2 separate regions of the Homo sapiens genome follow, and region 2 is linked to region 1. Evidence: fine-mapped expression QTL. Tissue or cell type: whole blood. Region 1 holds a variant in brackets; the other region holds the start of a gene. All regions are shown on one strand. Distances are from middle to middle.

The links. PIP is the estimated chance that this variant, and not a neighbour inherited with it, causes the effect.
Region 2: PAPOLA starts here. The variant in region 1 is fine-mapped to the expression of PAPOLA in whole blood (TOPMed, PIP above 0.99). The same link has a PIP of 0.9 or more in aorta and breast.

Annotation. Positions count from the first base shown.
Region 1 is chr14:96,574,330-96,582,433 of GRCh38, forward strand. No RefSeq gene overlaps it. Among named protein-coding and RNA genes, the nearest start is that of PAPOLA, 76 kb to the left of the region's middle. The variant G/C (reference allele first, on the strand shown) is at 4,505.
Region 2 is chr14:96,497,849-96,505,952 of GRCh38, forward strand. It overlaps PAPOLA (poly(A) polymerase alpha), which reads left to right and starts at 4,534. Exons shown (of 22, transcript NM_032632.5): 1 at 4,534-4,752. The coding sequence starts at 4,745. PAPOLA-DT (PAPOLA divergent transcript) reads right to left here and starts at 4,478. Exons shown (of 1, transcript NR_122121.1): 1 at 3,800-4,478. RefSeq lists enhancers at 3,239-3,835, 3,836-4,430, 4,348-4,607, 4,431-5,026, 6,182-6,683 and 1 more and silencers at 3,946-4,289, 4,728-4,847.

The DNA.
Region 1 (8,104 bases):
TTAAGCCTTATGCTTCTGAAGCCACCACCAGTGTGGTGCAATGTTTGATTAATGTCTGAAGGGAGCCTGGTCCAGTGGTTGGAAGAAAAAGCCCTGGCCTTCAGGAAGGACAAATCTGATCCTTCTCCAGGGCCTGATGACCCTGGGTAAGCTACTTAACGCCTTCCCCCAGTTTCTGAGGAAAATGTTAAGTTTTTCTTTAGATCTTTCTTATTGAAGCTTTATGTGGATTAGCAAGCAGATAGGGCATGTTTAAGCAATCAGACTTTTTTTTTTTCAGTACTAGGTTAAACCTAGTTTGAATTAGTCAGAGGGCAGTCACAAAGGCAGACTGCAAAGGAACATCTGGCAAACCACCCCTGCTAATTCTCAAAGCTGTCTTCCTGCTATGAAATTTGGGCAGGACCAGAGTAGGGAGAAAAAAGTGGAGTCAGGCAAAGCCCTGTTTAAAAAAAAAATTAGTGTGAGTTTGGGGCAGACTGACCTTTTCATTAAAAAACGTTCTCTCCCTTAGTGCCAAGACAAATGCAGTGCGTAGCTTCTGAGGAGACAGTGAGCATGCCTGCCTGCTTCTGGCAAGGGTTCAAGTGCAGTGAGTGGGTCTGGGAAAAATTCCTGACAGTAGCTGCCTTTTATTGAGTATATCTACTAGGTGTTAAGTGGTAGGGCCAGTTGTTACAGCAACCTATAAGATTTGACATATTCATTGGTGTCACCATTTACAGATGAGGAAACAGGTTTATTTTGGCAGAGTATCTTGCCCAGGGTCACACAGTAAATTGGATTTGAGCCTGGTTCTGTTTGACTCTAAAACTTAATCCTGAAATATGACCCTGTGTTTTCCCACTCAACAACGTTGCCTTAGTATCTCTTTGGATATTATCGTTGAGAAGGCAAGGGTAATTAGCTCTATTTTGCATATGCCTCTAGTTTTAGAACAGCTAAAATACATTGCTGCTCTTTGGATGCCCTTAAAAAGCTGGCCTGCTGGAGGTGAGGAGGGGGAGAGATTTGCAAAGAGCGACAGTGAACAGCTGGGCTCTGATGAGACTGGTGTACTCTATTTACTAGTACTGGAAGGTTTGGATTCTGACTAGTTTGGGGTGAACTGACCTGTTCACACTCAAGTCACTTAATAGCTTTGACTAAACTTTGGATGTTTAAGTAATGTTACATATCGGTTGGGATGGTTTCTCCTTGAGAAGTTTTGCATCTTAGAATGTTTTTCTTTTTAAGCCAATTAAAACAGAAGACCTCCTAAAAGGAAAGCTAAAAATCCTTAAAAGTGCTTAAGACTAGAGTGAATGAAACCTCAGCAGAGATGCCTTAGAGGTTGTTGAGGTGCTTTACCTATCATATCTGAAGGCATTAATTACACTTGACAAAGTTTTATTAAAAACAGAAAAGGCAGAGGCACTTTTAGAGGAACTGGATGAAAACAATACTTAATGTTTTAAAAAAAAGAAAAATTGGCATCTAAAAATGAATTTTTTGTGGGGAGGGCTTCATTATGTTGTATATAAAATGTGAATGTGGTAAATGTCTAAAATGTGAATTGTGGGTGAATATGTCACTGGGCAAATTGATTATTAGGTGAATTGGTTTTAGGCAAATTTGATGTTATCTTGAATTTGTTAATGTTGATTTTTTCTAATTATAGTCATAATTCATATTCATTGTAGTCAAAATTCATATTCATTGTAATACTTAAAAAATACAGAAAAGCATAAAGAAGAAACTTCACCCATAATCCTTAAAAAAAAAAAAAAAGCATACTTAAGGTCATACTAGGTAAGTAATTTTATATCAGGCATTTTCCCTGGAGATTGTCACGGCTGTTGAATAGGTAAAGCAAAGAGCCCAAGCATATCATGTGTGTGTCTCCACAAGCTGGGGACCTACGCTTTGGATTGAAGCCTGAGGAGAAATGTGGGGGAGCCTGGACCTAGGAGGGGTATGGAGAGGGAACCAGGCTGTATAGTGGAGAAAGACTCCCTGGTTTGCCAGGTGAGGGTTGAATCAGGGAGGCTCACAACAATGGCCGGCTTTAGCTTTAAGTGAATACCCCTATCAGAAAGTTAGAAAAAAAACAAACTCGTGTAGTTCAATGGGCATGGTTTTGCCTCCTGTGAGGAGGATGTTCATTCAACAGATATTCGTTGATCCCCTACCATGTACCAGGTGCTGTTACAGTGAGAAGCAAGCAAGGAGAGGGAACTGGGGTTCACTGAGTCCACAGGGTTTAGGCACTTTGGCGCACTCTGAGTGGTGGGCGTCACACTCAGCTGCCGTGACAGCTGCCTGGGGGTAGTTACAGATCAGTGAGACCTGGTAATAAGTTGAACTTGTCTGGTTCTAAAGCCCAAGCTGTTTCCATTTTGGGGCACATTTAACAGTTAAAAAGAGGCCCTAGTTATACATGGGGAACAAAACTGATAATAGCCCCTGTCCTTATGAAAGCTTATAGTTCATAGGAGATACAGATGCCGACAACACAAATGAACTGTAAGTTACTAGTGGGCTCTGAACGGAAATAAGAGTGCTTCTGGAAGGTTAGGAGCACCCTTTCAAACTGGACAAGCTTTGACCTGAAGACTAAGGTGGTGCCGAGTGAGGGAGCAGCATGTTTCTTAAGCAGGAAGGAGCTTGGCAACTGCAGAGGAACAGGAAGGTGCTGGAGTTTTAGAGCTTAGTTGGGTTGAGAGAGATGTAGGTGCCCAGATGTATCACAGTGATAGAATAAGAGGTCCAGAAGTGCTGAGGGAGCATGCAGCTTCCTGGTGGCCTTGGGGAGGATGTGGGAGAGCAGGTGCCATTTGATGGGTAGTTTGGCTGTGATCAGGAAACAGAGCAGAGGAGACAGCATGCTAAGTGGAGTGAAGGGCTTGCACCAGGGCACGGGGCAGGAGAGCATGTCAAGGTCAGAGAACAAAGCAGCCAGCAAAGCTAGTGTGTGACTGGGTGGGGCGGGTGGGGAGCAGTAGGTTAGATGTTACTGCCCTATTGAGAAAGATCTTGAGGCTCAGAGCAGCTCAACATGATTAAGATGTGGTCCAGGTTCTTAGTGGTGGTAGAAGCTAAGTAAAGGAGAACAAAGAGCGCACACACACACAAAGACCCTGGGCTTCCGTCACTTGTGCTTGTACCTGGTCCCATATTCCCATATTGGAGACTTGTACCGTTGCATACTTGCTCTCGCACCTCCCTTCCTTCCAGATCCAGCTTCATGCTGGATAAAAGAAATGTTTACATCCCAAATAGGATGGAGTGGACGGTGCCAGATTTCACACTACCCAGAGGGCTGCACAATTTACTACTTATAAGTTGTTTATTTCTGGCATTTTCCATTGAATATTTTCAGACTGTGGTTGGCTGCAGGTAACTGAAACCACGGAAAGCAGAACCATGGATAAAGGGGATTACTGTACTACAAATTCCAAGGTCCTGATAGAGAAGTCTCTTCATTAGGGAACTAGACCGCTTGCCTTAAAATGCATTTGGCTTGCAAGGCGGGTGCGAGGGAACGATATGTCACAAGCTAGCAGAGGCTGTGGGCAGTGTGCCCTTTACGTTCTGACACGCGTGGGGGCCCACATCTCTGCAGAGTCCTCCCCTTGAAAGCCTTTTAGTCCCTGACATCCATCATTGTGGGGGCTCAGCTTGGCTGAGCTGAATATTTATGAGTCATTATTTAATTAAGCCTTTCATACTTTCATTGATAAATGCAGTCACCCCTTGCCCCATTAGTCCCCACCACCACCTTGCAGCCCACAGCCAACTTCCAGCCCAGGCGCTGCTCCTCATTCTGTTCCTGGCATGCTGTTGACTGCCCTCCAGTGTCTACCACCCACTGGAGAGAAATCAAGGCCGGGATTCCTTTCAGTGCCCCCAGTATGTGGAGGCAAAGAGAGACATTTGCACTGACCATTGGTAGATGCTATAGTTTGACCAAACGGCCCCTATTCCTAGGTGTTTGGCAACTTGTAGCCCAAGTGGAAGACGGGAGAGAACAACCCAACAGGCATCTGGGGAGGTGCCTGTTCTCCTGACGCTGCCTGTCTGTCTGATGGTTCTATTAACAGCCTTCAAGAAGGATGAAGGGGAGGGTACAACAGTGAACAACAAACATCTCAGTCAGGAGAGGAATTTCAAGACGGGGTGGGCCTGGGTGGGAAGAGGAGAAATGAGGACAAAGCTTTGGAAACTTTGCTAGGAAGATGTAATGGGAATGTGGCCCGAGGTGAGGCTCACACACCTGGCCCCTGCGTCGTCAAGAAGCACCGCACAGGAGGTGAGGGTGCTTCTTCCCCACCCGTGGACAACTTGCCTAGCACCTTGGTTTCTGAACTTAAGCCACTTGAGTCCACTTGCAGCAGTACTTGGGGCCCCAGCCTGTCCCTTTCACTGAGAATCTGGGAGTCTGGGCACCTGGGGGTGTGGCAGTCTTCCTGGAGTTGGAGTGCTTTCCCATGGCAGCCTGGCCTGGCATGTCCAGTGACGCACT[G/C]CTCCACATGCTGCCCTCTTCTTCCTGGCTATGCTCTGGGTTAGGCGCCAGAGGGAGCGGGCATCTCTTCCCTGGAACCTGGAGCAGCAGGTAGGAAGGGAGGATGTGAACCGTGTACGGCAAGCTTGTTTATTCATTCAGCAGCACCTCCTGAGCCCCAAGTGCCTGGCATGAGTTCTGGGTGTGTCAATGAGTTAGCCGAAGCCTGTCCCCTCTTCCACTTGCCACGACGTGCTCTTCTGTGTGCGTGGAAGTTCTTGCCCCAGCATCTCACTGCTCACCTCCTGTTGTACTCAGCTGGGTTTCACTCATCCCACAGGATATACCTTAGATATCATCATCTCTGAGAAGTCTTCTGATCCCTTAGGCTGGGTTAGATCTCCACTCCCAAAGCACTCTGTAGCTAAATCTCTTAGCACTTACCATATTGTGGTATTGCCCGAGTTGGGAGCAGCTCTTGCAAAGCTGAGGCCGTGTCTTGATGCATGTCTGTAGCCACAGTGCATGATGTGTAATAGCTGCTTGTCAGTGTCTGTGGAAATTCAGTGAATGAAGGACTTGACCAAGTTCTTCCCGAGGAGCTCCCAGTGTACCAGTGGAATATGAGCTCATGTGTATTAAGACTTCATGGTCTAAAGATTGTGCTAAATGCCTTACGTGGACTATCTCACTGAATCCTCCCAACAATCCTTTGAAGCACGTATTACAGTTCCCATTTTCCAGATGTTGAAACCGAGGCACAGAGAAATACTTGTCCAACGACCCATGGTGCCAATTGCAATGATGGGAATGTTTAAGGGTGATGGGACAGAGAAGAGGGGCACCTGACTGTGTGCTACGCACTGTTTGGTACTATGCACACCTCTCATCTAGTACCCAAAACAGCCCTGCAGGACTGCTTTTGTTACCTGGAACCTAAGAATTCAGAGAAAGTCAGTGACTTGTCCAAGGCCACCAGCTGGGAAGCAGTGGAGCCAAGATTCAAACCCTATGTTCTTAGGCAGACAGACCCCAAAGAGAGGACTCTCGGGTATCATAGCTTGAACGCTAAGGGGGCCCCTCGAGGCAGGAGCTGTGTCTGCCTGTGCTCTCTCCCACTTTACTGGAAAGGGGCTCTGACATGAGAATTCTGTTTTATTTTTGAGACAAGGTCTTGCTCTGGCACCCAGGCTGGAGTGTAGTGGTGCAATCACAGCTCACTGCAGCCTTGACCTCCCGGGCTCAAGTGATCCTCCTACCTCAGCCTCCAGAGTAGCTGGAACCACGGTGCACGGCACCACAGGCCCAGCTAATTTTAAATTTTTTCTTTTGTAGAGACAGGGTCTCTCTTTGTTTCCCAAGCTGGTCTCAAACTTCTGGGACCAAGTGATCCTTCTGCCTTGGCCTCCCAGTGTTGGGGTTATAGGTGTGAGACACCACACCTGGCCTGACATGACAGTCCTGACTGTCATTTGCTGAATAAACCATGATAGGGAGCCCAGCTAATTGGGATGCACTAGTAACTGGACAGTCCTCTCAGATCTCAGGGGCCACTGTCAAAGCCCTTTTCCTGGATTAAGACTCATGGCTGGTTACCCTGAGTCTTCCAGTCTACCACCTCTCTGGCTATGGCAGGTTTTGCAGAATAAAGTGACTGAGGCTTAACAAGTTTGTGAGTGTGGCCAAAGCCAGTGTAGCATAGGACTGGACCAGTGCTGGTGAAGGAAATTAAGCTGTAACTTGTGGGATTTCAAGAAACCAATCTTGGTCTGTAAGTCGTTTTTATAAAAATGAATATGCGATCACTGCCCTAACTCTCGTTTCTTTAAACGGATGCCAAGAGCATTCAAGGGAGAGCAATGCCAAATTTACATTCAGCTTTAACAGTTTGTCCTTCCGAGGAGCACAGGCTGACTTTAGAGTAATTCCTGTGATCATCACAAATGGAGTTGGCATTAAAAAGGGTGAAGGGAAGACTCAGGAAGGAGGACAGACACTCCGTGCTACACGCGAAAGCTTGTTTATCTGGAAGCCTGGCTTGCAGTTCCTGCATCCCTCTGGAACCCAGCCCTGAATCTCTGAACCGAGCAGTAAGTAGAAAAGGCTTCTAGGCTCTGGGAAGAAATGTCACACAGCCCATGCACCAAGGTCACGCCCTGTCCTCTAGGTGCACAGCAAAGGTCTTCGTGGCTGTCTCCTGTGTCATTTGTGGTTAACACTCGACTTATGTGCCGGTTTTCACAACTCACAGCAGATTATCCTAGAGGCCTGTAACTTCAGCTAGCTTCAAGTATAGCAGGTATGACACTAAATGTCATCACATACCTGATCGTTTTTACTCCTCACAGAAAACAGGCCTTGTAAACTGTATTTCACAGATGAGGAAACTAGTTCCCTTAAGAGGTGTCTAGCTTGTAGGCTGCATGTGTCTAGTATAGATAACTGCTGTGCCGACGATTTGCTAATTGCTGTGGGGGGATGGGCACGGGAGAGCTTTTTGGCCTCAGTGGACGTTTTAAGAGATGCACACTTAGAACCACTGGAGCTGTGTCCAGCTAGAGAAACTGTATCCATCGCTACAGACTGGTGAGGTTTTGCACATTTCTCCCAGAAAACCCGAAGGAAGGGGGTTTGGAGAGAGGAGCCAGGAGTGGGGCTCAGAGCAGAGCCGAAAGGAAAGCGCAGGGTGGGATGTGGCTCTGAGCTCTTCCACCCGCCCCGGGGACCTCTGAGATAATACCAACTGCACCCAGTTCCCTAGCCCACACCTGGCAGGTAGCACGTTCACTTCATGACCTTCTTGAATGCGCAGTGCCCCATTCTTTTGAGTTCTTATTACATGTCAAAGGCAAGGACCGTGGCTTCTCTTTTTGTCCACGCGGTACTCACATGGTCTTGATAGGACTGACCTTCTGAGGATCTCCTTGATCTTTCTTTACCTATATAAACAAAAATTAAATTTAAACACAGCTGTATTCGCATATGAACAAAAAACTACCATTAGGTGTTTGTCTCTCAGCAAATTATTTCTCCTCTCTAGGCCTCAGTTTTTTCATCAATAAAATGAGACCATTAGACCGAGGAGGAACTTCTGGCTCCAAAACCCTTTGGGTTCTAAGTCTTCTCTTTGAGAATGTTCTCCACTCCCCCAAACTGATTTGACATAATTTGGTCTCTCCTCCCATTCCAATGGCCTCTTTCCTGCCTAGTCCTTGCCTACCAGCCACGCCCCCTCTGGCATGCCCCACCCACCTTTCTCTGTTTGCTGCTCTGGAAGAGAAGGATCCTGGCTTCTCAGAGCCCTGGTGAATACAGATACTGCCTCGTTTGCATATTAACACTGGTGCCAGTCTGAGCCCAGCTGTGTGCAACGTAAGGTGAAATATAGATTCCCCCAACCTGGCCACAGTGTCTCCACGCGGCTAATGGAAAAGCCTTCGGAGTGGGCCCATGTTGCATATGCATAAGCTTTCCTTTGGCCGTGGATGGGCATTGGGTGCTCTTACTCCCATTTCAACTGTGTCTCTGTGCTTCTTTGGGTTTCCTTCAAGATTAACAGGCCATCTGGGCTAAACAGCTATTTGAAGTGACTTGGCCAGGCCCTGGGCTGGCCTCTTGGGA
Region 2 (8,104 bases), 76 kb before region 1:
GCAAGGGTAACAGTAGACTGTTACCAATATACTATTAATTGGTCTTCTCTTACTCTTCACTTTCCTTGGCTAGAGTTTTACTCTTAACTGGGTCCTAAATATGATCTGTGAGCATCTAGATTATTACTCATTCATGAAATTTGAGTTGGAGTAGTCGCTGGGTGTATATAAGGTCCTTCCAGAGCCAAAACATGATTCCAAGCCATGATTCTTGTTTTCAGAGTTTATAATGTTTCCAGCCCAAATTTCTCTTCTTAGCTCCGGAAGCATATTTTCAACTGCCTCATAGACATTTCTGAATGTCCCACAGGCAGTTCAAAATCAACACATAGCTACTACTCTCCCGATCTCATCCACTCACCCAGTTATCCTCCTCTATTTCCTATTTCATTTATCAGTAGCTCCAATCACTGTCACCCGCCCCCACTCAGAACCTCCGAAATCATTTTGGTCTTCTTCCTCTCCATCACCTCTCCCATCCAGAATTAACTATGCCTTCTAAATCTTTCTCAGATTGCTCCCTTCTTCTCTTCCTTATTTCTTCTTCTTTTTTTTTTTTTTTTTTTTTGAGACGGAGTCTGGCTCTGTCGCCCAGGCTGGAGTGCAGTGGCGCGATCTCAGCTCACTGCAAGCTCCGCCTCCCGGGTTCACGCCATTCTCCTACCTCAGCCTCATGAGTAGCTGGGATTATAGGCGCCCGCCACCACGCCCGACTAATTTTTTTGTATTTTTAGTAGAGACGAGGTTTCACCGGATTAGCCAGGATGGTCTCAGTCTCCTGACCTCGTGATCCACCCGCCTCGGCCTCCCAAAGTGCTGGGATTACAGGCTTGAGCCACCGCGCCCGGCTTTCTCTTCCTTATTTCAAACTTCATTTCTCATCTGAAGGATTGCAAGAGCCGCCTCACCCATCTTCCAGCTTCAAAACCTCTCCTAGTTCAAATTCATTCCTTACACTTTCAGTCATCTTTCCAAAAATATAAATGTAACCTAACTCCTGTTTTAAAACTTTCAATGGCTCCTCCATTCACAAAAACAAAAATTCAAAATCGCTCAGAATTAACTTCAGGTCTCAGCTCAAAGGTCAGTTCCTCTGAAAAGCCTTCTCTATCTGAAGTTGGCCTCCACCACAACTCTAATGCCTGGTTTATTAATGCCGCTTATCACCATCTATAATTCCTTTGTCTGTTTATGGAGTCATTATATGATCTCCCATCTCCCCCTACTTCCTTTATTTTTGAGACATGGTCTCATTCTGTCACCCAGGCTGGAGCGCAGTGGCATGATCTTGGCTCACTACAGCCTTGACTTCCTGGGCTCAGGTGATTCTCCCACCGCAGCCTTCAGAATAGAGGACACAGGTGTGCACCACTATGCCCCTTATCTTCTGCCTCTCACTTAACTTTGCAGCTTTATTTTCACCACTCCTCACTAAATATTTTGTGGTTTAGTCACTTCAAAAGTTTCCCTTTCTCCAAATAAATTATTTGCACGTTTTAATTTTTATTTATTTATTTATTTATTTCTGAGGCAGAGTTTTGGTCTTGTTGCCCGGGCTGGAGTGCAATGGCACAATCTTGGTCCACTGCAACATGTGCCTCCTGGGTTCAAGCGATTCTCCTGCCTCAGCTTTTGAGTAGCTGGGATTACAGGCGCCCACCACTATGCCCGACTAATTTTTGTATTTTTAGTAGAGATGGGGTTTCAACATGTTTGCCAGGCTGATCTCCAACTCCTGACCTCAAGTGATCTTCCAACCTCAGCCTCCCAAAGTGTTGGGATTACAGGCGTGAGCCACTGCGCCCGGCCTCATTTTATTTTTAAAAATTGTTCTCTTTACCTGAGATGCCCTTCTACTCCTTCTGTCCACTTACCAAACCCTAACATATCAGGACGTGTCTGAAGTGACCTCTTACATGAAGTCTACCTTGACTCCATCCTCAATCCTCAATATTGTTCCTTTTAAATGCCTTAGGCAAGTAGCGTGATATCTAGCACATTCTAGGTACTAAATATTCATCAGCTGTGCTATCTAGCTGCCTCATTCTATGGAAGGCTGAAACAAAAATAGTTTGAAGCAATTATAGACCAAAAGCATGGATGTTTAGCGTCCCTCTCTTCACTGCCTTCTGAGATGCCTGGCAGAGGACAACATAAGCTGAAAAAGTCCCCATTCTTTTATTCATAAAGTACATCGTTAGTGCATTTTTTTTTTTTTTTTTTGAACAATGTCTTGCTCTGTTGCCAAGCTAGAGTGCAATGGCATGATCAGGGCTCACTGCAGTCTCAACTTCCTTGCCTCAGGTGATCCTCCCAACCTCAGCCTCCCAAGTAGCTGGGACTACAGGTGTGTGCCACCAAGGCCAGCTAATTTTTTTGATTTTTTTTTTTAGTAGAGACAACGACTTGCCACGTTGCCCAGGGTGGCCTAGAACTCCCGAGCTCAAGGAATCCTCTGCCTCCCAAAGTGCTGGGATTACAGGTGTGAGTGAGCCACTGTGCCAGGCCCCAGGGCATATCTTTACAAGCTGCTTTGAAGTCCATAGCCTTAATACATTATTGAATTATCTGGATCTCAGATTTTCAGTCTTTTAGGGACAACTATGCTACTGGGTCTCCAGCCAAAGCCACCTTGATGACAAGAGGAAAAGAGACTAAATGGAAGAAATGACAATCAAATATAAGTCTGTTTGCAGATCAGCACTATTTAATGGAAATGAAGGCCACATATATAACTTAAAATTTTCTAGTGGTCACATTTAAAAAAACAGGTAAAATTAATTTTAATAGTATATTTTCTTTTTTTTTTTTTTGAGACAGGATCTCGTTCTGTCAACGCAGGCTGGAGTGCAGTAGTGAGATGACGACTCACGGCAGCCTCCACCTCCCACTCCAGGGATCCTCCTACCTCAGTCTCCGGAGTAACTGGGACCACAGGCAGGAACTACCATGCCCAGCTAATTTTTTTTTCTTTTTTCTTTTTTTTTTTTTTTTTTTAACTTTTTGTATAGACGGGGGTTTCCCTATATTGCCCAGGCTGGTCTCTAACTCCTGCCCAAGCGATCCTCCCACCTCAGCCTCCTAAAGTGCTGGATCACAGGTGTGAGACACCGTGCCCGGCTTACATTTTCTTTACTGCAATATATCCAAAATATTTCAACGTGCAATCAATATAAAAAGTGATCAGTGAGGTATTTCACATTCGTCGAACTGACACCCGTGCGTATTTTGCACTTCCAGTGCCTCCTAAACGAACTAGCCTCATTTCAAGTGCTCAGTGGCCCTAAGTGGCCAAGGGGCTACACTAATGGACAGGGCAGGTCTAGGTCCTGTGTTTTTCCCATTCGGAGTCACCAGTCCTACTAGACATTCTGTGAAAAAAGGGAAAGCCTTTGTGAAACTTCCTGAGGACTCACAAATGCACATTATTACATTTAGAGTTTAGAACTTTGGTTAAGGCAGCGTCCTGTATTTGATTCTTTCCCTCTTCCTCTCCGCTAACCCCCTATGTGACACCGTAGAACTTATAATTCGTTCTAATTCGCAGATGGAGGGCATATGAGAGAGGAGGCTCTGCCTCAAACACTTTCTCAAACTTTTGCCGAGGGGTGGCGAGAAGGTAGACTTCCAGGTCCCACCCGATATAGATTAAGGGCTGGAAACACAGTCAAGGGGAAATTATGACCAAGACAACCTTTGCTAAAATGCCAGCGGTGACTGCCATTGATGTTCCTATAAAAGGTCAGCTCTGTCAGGAAGTTCCAGTGCATCATTTGTTCAAAAGTAAAATCAGCCCGTGTTCCAGAATTCGCGGACTGTCGTCAGTCCTAACCTACACATTTATTCGTTCAACAAATATTTCAGCGCCTGGGTCAGGCATCAGGAATACACTGGTGGTTAAAACAGACGGAAAGCTCCATCTGGTGGGACGCAGTCTGGGAGGGAAAGGGAGTCCTGGGGACATGTTTTCGTCGGCTCTAGGCTAAGCACCTCTCGCCGTAGCACACGGGGTCGGCACCGCTGCCCGGCGAAGTACTTGTTACTTTGCAGTCCAGTACGAAGCGGCGGAGTAACCGGTTCCAACCCAAGGCAGCGACTCATGCGAGTCGTTCTAAGCGCCGCGCTGGGGGGTACATACGGTGCACGCGTGGGTGCCTCACCCCCTGGCAGCGCCTCCAGGGACGCTGCTCCGGGAAAGAGCAGCCGCCGCGACCTCAGGCGGCGGGAAAGGTGGGACCTCACAATGCGCCGGAAGCGGTGCCTCGTGGCTTGGGATCTCTCCGGGTTCTTCCTTGCGCCGTCCACGCCGCACTGCCCACGAGGGCGTCCCCGCCCGAGGGACAACTCACCGCCCGGGGCCTCCCTGAGCGTTCCCTTCCACCATCTGACACCCACTGCTAAGTGTGAGAGGACCCAGGGGGTAATTGCCGGGCCGCAGGCGGCCTTAGGAACTCCGCTTCCCGTGAGGCTTCGCGGCGGACGGCGCTGGTGCGCAGGCGCACGCACGGCGTGCGTGGTGGCGTCAGCAGTTCTAGAACGTTGCTGTGGTAGCGCTCGGGCGCCATGTTAGGACGAAGGGGAAGGAGGAGAAGCGCTTAAAGCGGCGGGAGCGGTGCGGGAGAGGGGTTGGACCCAGGGCTGAGGCAGGCCCCCCCCTCCCTCCCGCCTCAGTGGATCATGCCCAGGGCGGCAGCGGCGGCGGTTGCGGGGGGGAAGTGACTGGGCGGTGCCGGCGCCGGAGACGATGCCGTTGTAAGTAATTTGTATTCTGTTTTCTTTCGCTCGCCGGCTGGGCCTTGGGGGGCGTCCGGGAAGGGGAAGAGGTAGGCGGAGAGGGTGGCACGCGAGCCCGACCCTCCCCGCTGGTAGGAGGCAGGCAGGACTGGGGACCTTCCTGTTTCCTCGCTCGCTCGCCGCCGCACTTCCCCCCGTGTGCTGGGTTCCCGCGTCCCCCGACCCTTCCTGGCTGGGTCAGCTGCCGTCGGGCCGGGGGCCTTCCCCTTCCGGAATTGCTGGCGGAACCTCTAACTCGCCCGGCCACTCCAGCTTCTCCGCCCCGTCCACAAAGAAAATCAAAACAACCCGAAAACAAAACATTGCCTGGTGGTGGGGAACCACGACCCTGCTGCACGCGGGATCAGCACTTGGGGTTCGGGCTCGCTCTCGGCGCCCCTCGGGCCCATTCGATGTTGCTTTTCTGTTCCTGGTCTGTCTCAGTTTGCTCACTCTCTTCCTCCCATTTCCAGATGCCTGTCTTGTGCGCCGGAGTTAGCCCCTTTCCACTGACCTTGTCTGAATGTAGGAGCACGAGTTAAAAGCCCAGCTTTGAGCGTTGAGTCCGCCTGCCTCCACCTCCGCCTCCCTAGCATTCACAGGCGGTCGGAGAAGGGGGCACTTCACAGGGTGCCCTCCTCCAAAACGACTTATGTATTGCTTTCCCTGTTTTGTTTTGATGGGGTAACCAGGTTTCATTCTGTTTCCTTCTTTCTCTATCTCTGGTGATACTTTTTTTTTCCTGGTTGTAAGGCTTGAAGCTAGTCTCTTTATGCTTTCTAATGCCACTGCGCCTTTTTCTTTTCTTGGTGGGTTTTTAAAAAGTTTTTTTCTCCCCTCCCCCTTTCTGATAATGAGATATAATTTGGCAGCTCATTGCCAGTAGATTACGGATTTTTTTTTTCCTGCAAATATACAGCATTGTAGAGGCCTAAATAGTGAGACTGCATTTCTTCCATTTTTGAATATTGAAGCGTAAGAGTGCCTCTTTGAGACCAGGGACCGAGTTTTCTTCATCTTAGTAGCCTCAAAACGCAACATGTAATTGACACTCAAAGTTTTGGTTAAATTCAGGATAAAGATTTTTGTGGTTTCTAGACATCGAATGTAGTAACTCAGGTCTATTTTTTTTTTGTAAGTAAGGATAATTTCTTTAGCACATAATCACCGATTGTAGTTTTACAATTATATATGTGTGTGAATGTGTTTCTTTACAGGTGAGACTCTAACTTTGGCACAGACCTTAATGACTTCTATCGCAATTTATGTATTTTAAAAGGATTTTCCATGGCTCCCACCCACCCCCTTAGGTTATTAAGAAGTCTATCACATTACTTCTGTGATGAAAACGTTTGTTAGACTTAACTAACTATACAGGTCTAAAATCTTGGAATCTGCATGGTTTCTGTTTATTGATTTTTCCCTTTCATAGAATAAGAGACCCTAGGAGAACTGAGTCTAAGCAAGATTGTTGTGGTGTTTCTCAGTTCAATAGGAGATAAATGTTTGCAGTGATGTCGTGATGACTGCGTTATTAAGTTAACATTTTGCTGTCTTTGAAAAGGGACTTCTTTTTCTGATAATCATACCAGCATTAAAAATGATAGATGTAAACCTTAAAAGGCTTCAATGAAGAAATAACATTAAGTAATTTGTGTCTTATTTCTAGGAATTAAAAGTACTTTTATACCTACTTTCCCCCAACATTCTTTGAAGAGGGAAGGTATACATTTCTGTGAAAGACCTTAGGTATTTCAAATTCTTCGCGAGTTAGTTCAAGTGTGTAAAATGGAAGACGGGGCCAGGCGCGGTGGTTCACGCCTGTAATCCCAGCACTTTGGGAGGCCCAGGCAGGTAAATCGCTTGAGGCCAGGAGTTTGAGATCAGCCTGGGCAACATGGCGAAACTTCATCTCAACAAAAAACACAAGTTAGCTGGGCGTGGTGGCTCATGCCTGTAATCCCAGCTACTTGGGAGGTTGAGGTGGGAGGACTGCTTGAGCCCAGGAGGCTGAGGCTGCAGTGAGCCTTGATCATGCCACTGCGTTCCAGCCTGGGTGACAGAGCGAGACTCAAAAAGTAAGTATACGATAATTACTGTAGTAAACAATAGAGAGACCAAAGAATGCCTAGTTAAAGAAAAATAGGGCTTCTTCCTCATTAAGTTGCTTTGTTTTTCATGTACTGCTGTCACACTGTCATAAATGTTGTTTTTTTGATGTGTTGGATTGTGATTTCCCGGCTATATTGTGTTTGGCTTTCATTTTTGGTATACCTGTCCTAATGTTAAATTTGGATGGGTGAGTGGCATTGGGGCATGGACCCTAGGTGAGTTGTCGGAATGAATTTAAATCAAAATTATCGAAATTTAGGATATTACAGAACATTTTGATCAAGTGTCCATATTTTGTCTAAATTTCATATGTAGCTACAAACATACTTTTGGAAAGATTATAGTCTGATTTAAGAGTCATGGTGGTGAAGCTTCTGAAAGTTTTGATAGTCTTTGGATCCATTAAACAGTTTCTCACCTAGTCATTATTGACATTTATGCCAGATTCATTCCTTGCAGGTGCCTGTCCTGTGTATTGTAGTTTAACAGCAGCCTTAGCTTCCACCTACTGGATTCCGGGAGCTCCACCCCTCCATTTCCCCAGTAATGACAATCAAAAATGTCTCCAGATATTACCAGATGTGCCCTGGGGTGCAAAATCTGGTTGAGAACCACGGCATTAACGAAAAGTGTGATGCCCTTATGGAAACTAGATGTATTTCTGCCCTACTCTGTGTTGGTCAGATATTTTTGGCATCAGCTCAGTTCTGAGTATCACACATATGATAAAAAGGTGTGAAGGAGAGTAACCAGTATCAGTAGCATTTATGCCACATGCATAGAATGTTGTCAAAGTTACCAAAAAGAGTTACTGCAAGGTTTAGGCGAGACAATAGCAAAAATGTTTTCGGGGGCTGCACAAAAAAGAGGGAATTGTAGTAGTTTTACATCGCCATAACAAGCAGAACTGGTACCTGCTGGTGGATGGTCTGTGCTTCCCAGAGCGGGATCTGTGGATGCTTGGGGAGGGGGACCACTGAGATCTTTCAGAGGGTACATAATGTTCAAACTATTTTCATGTTATTGAGATGTTTTGTCTTTCAACATTTGTACTTAACGGTGCAAAAGCAGTGGTGGAAAATGCTGTATCCATCATAGGAACAATCAAGGCAGAGAACCGGTATTGTATATAGTCATTTCCTTCCTTCCTTCCTTGCTTGATTCCTTCCTTCCTTGCTTCCTTCCGTTCTTGACGGAGTCTTGCTCTGTCGCCGGGCTG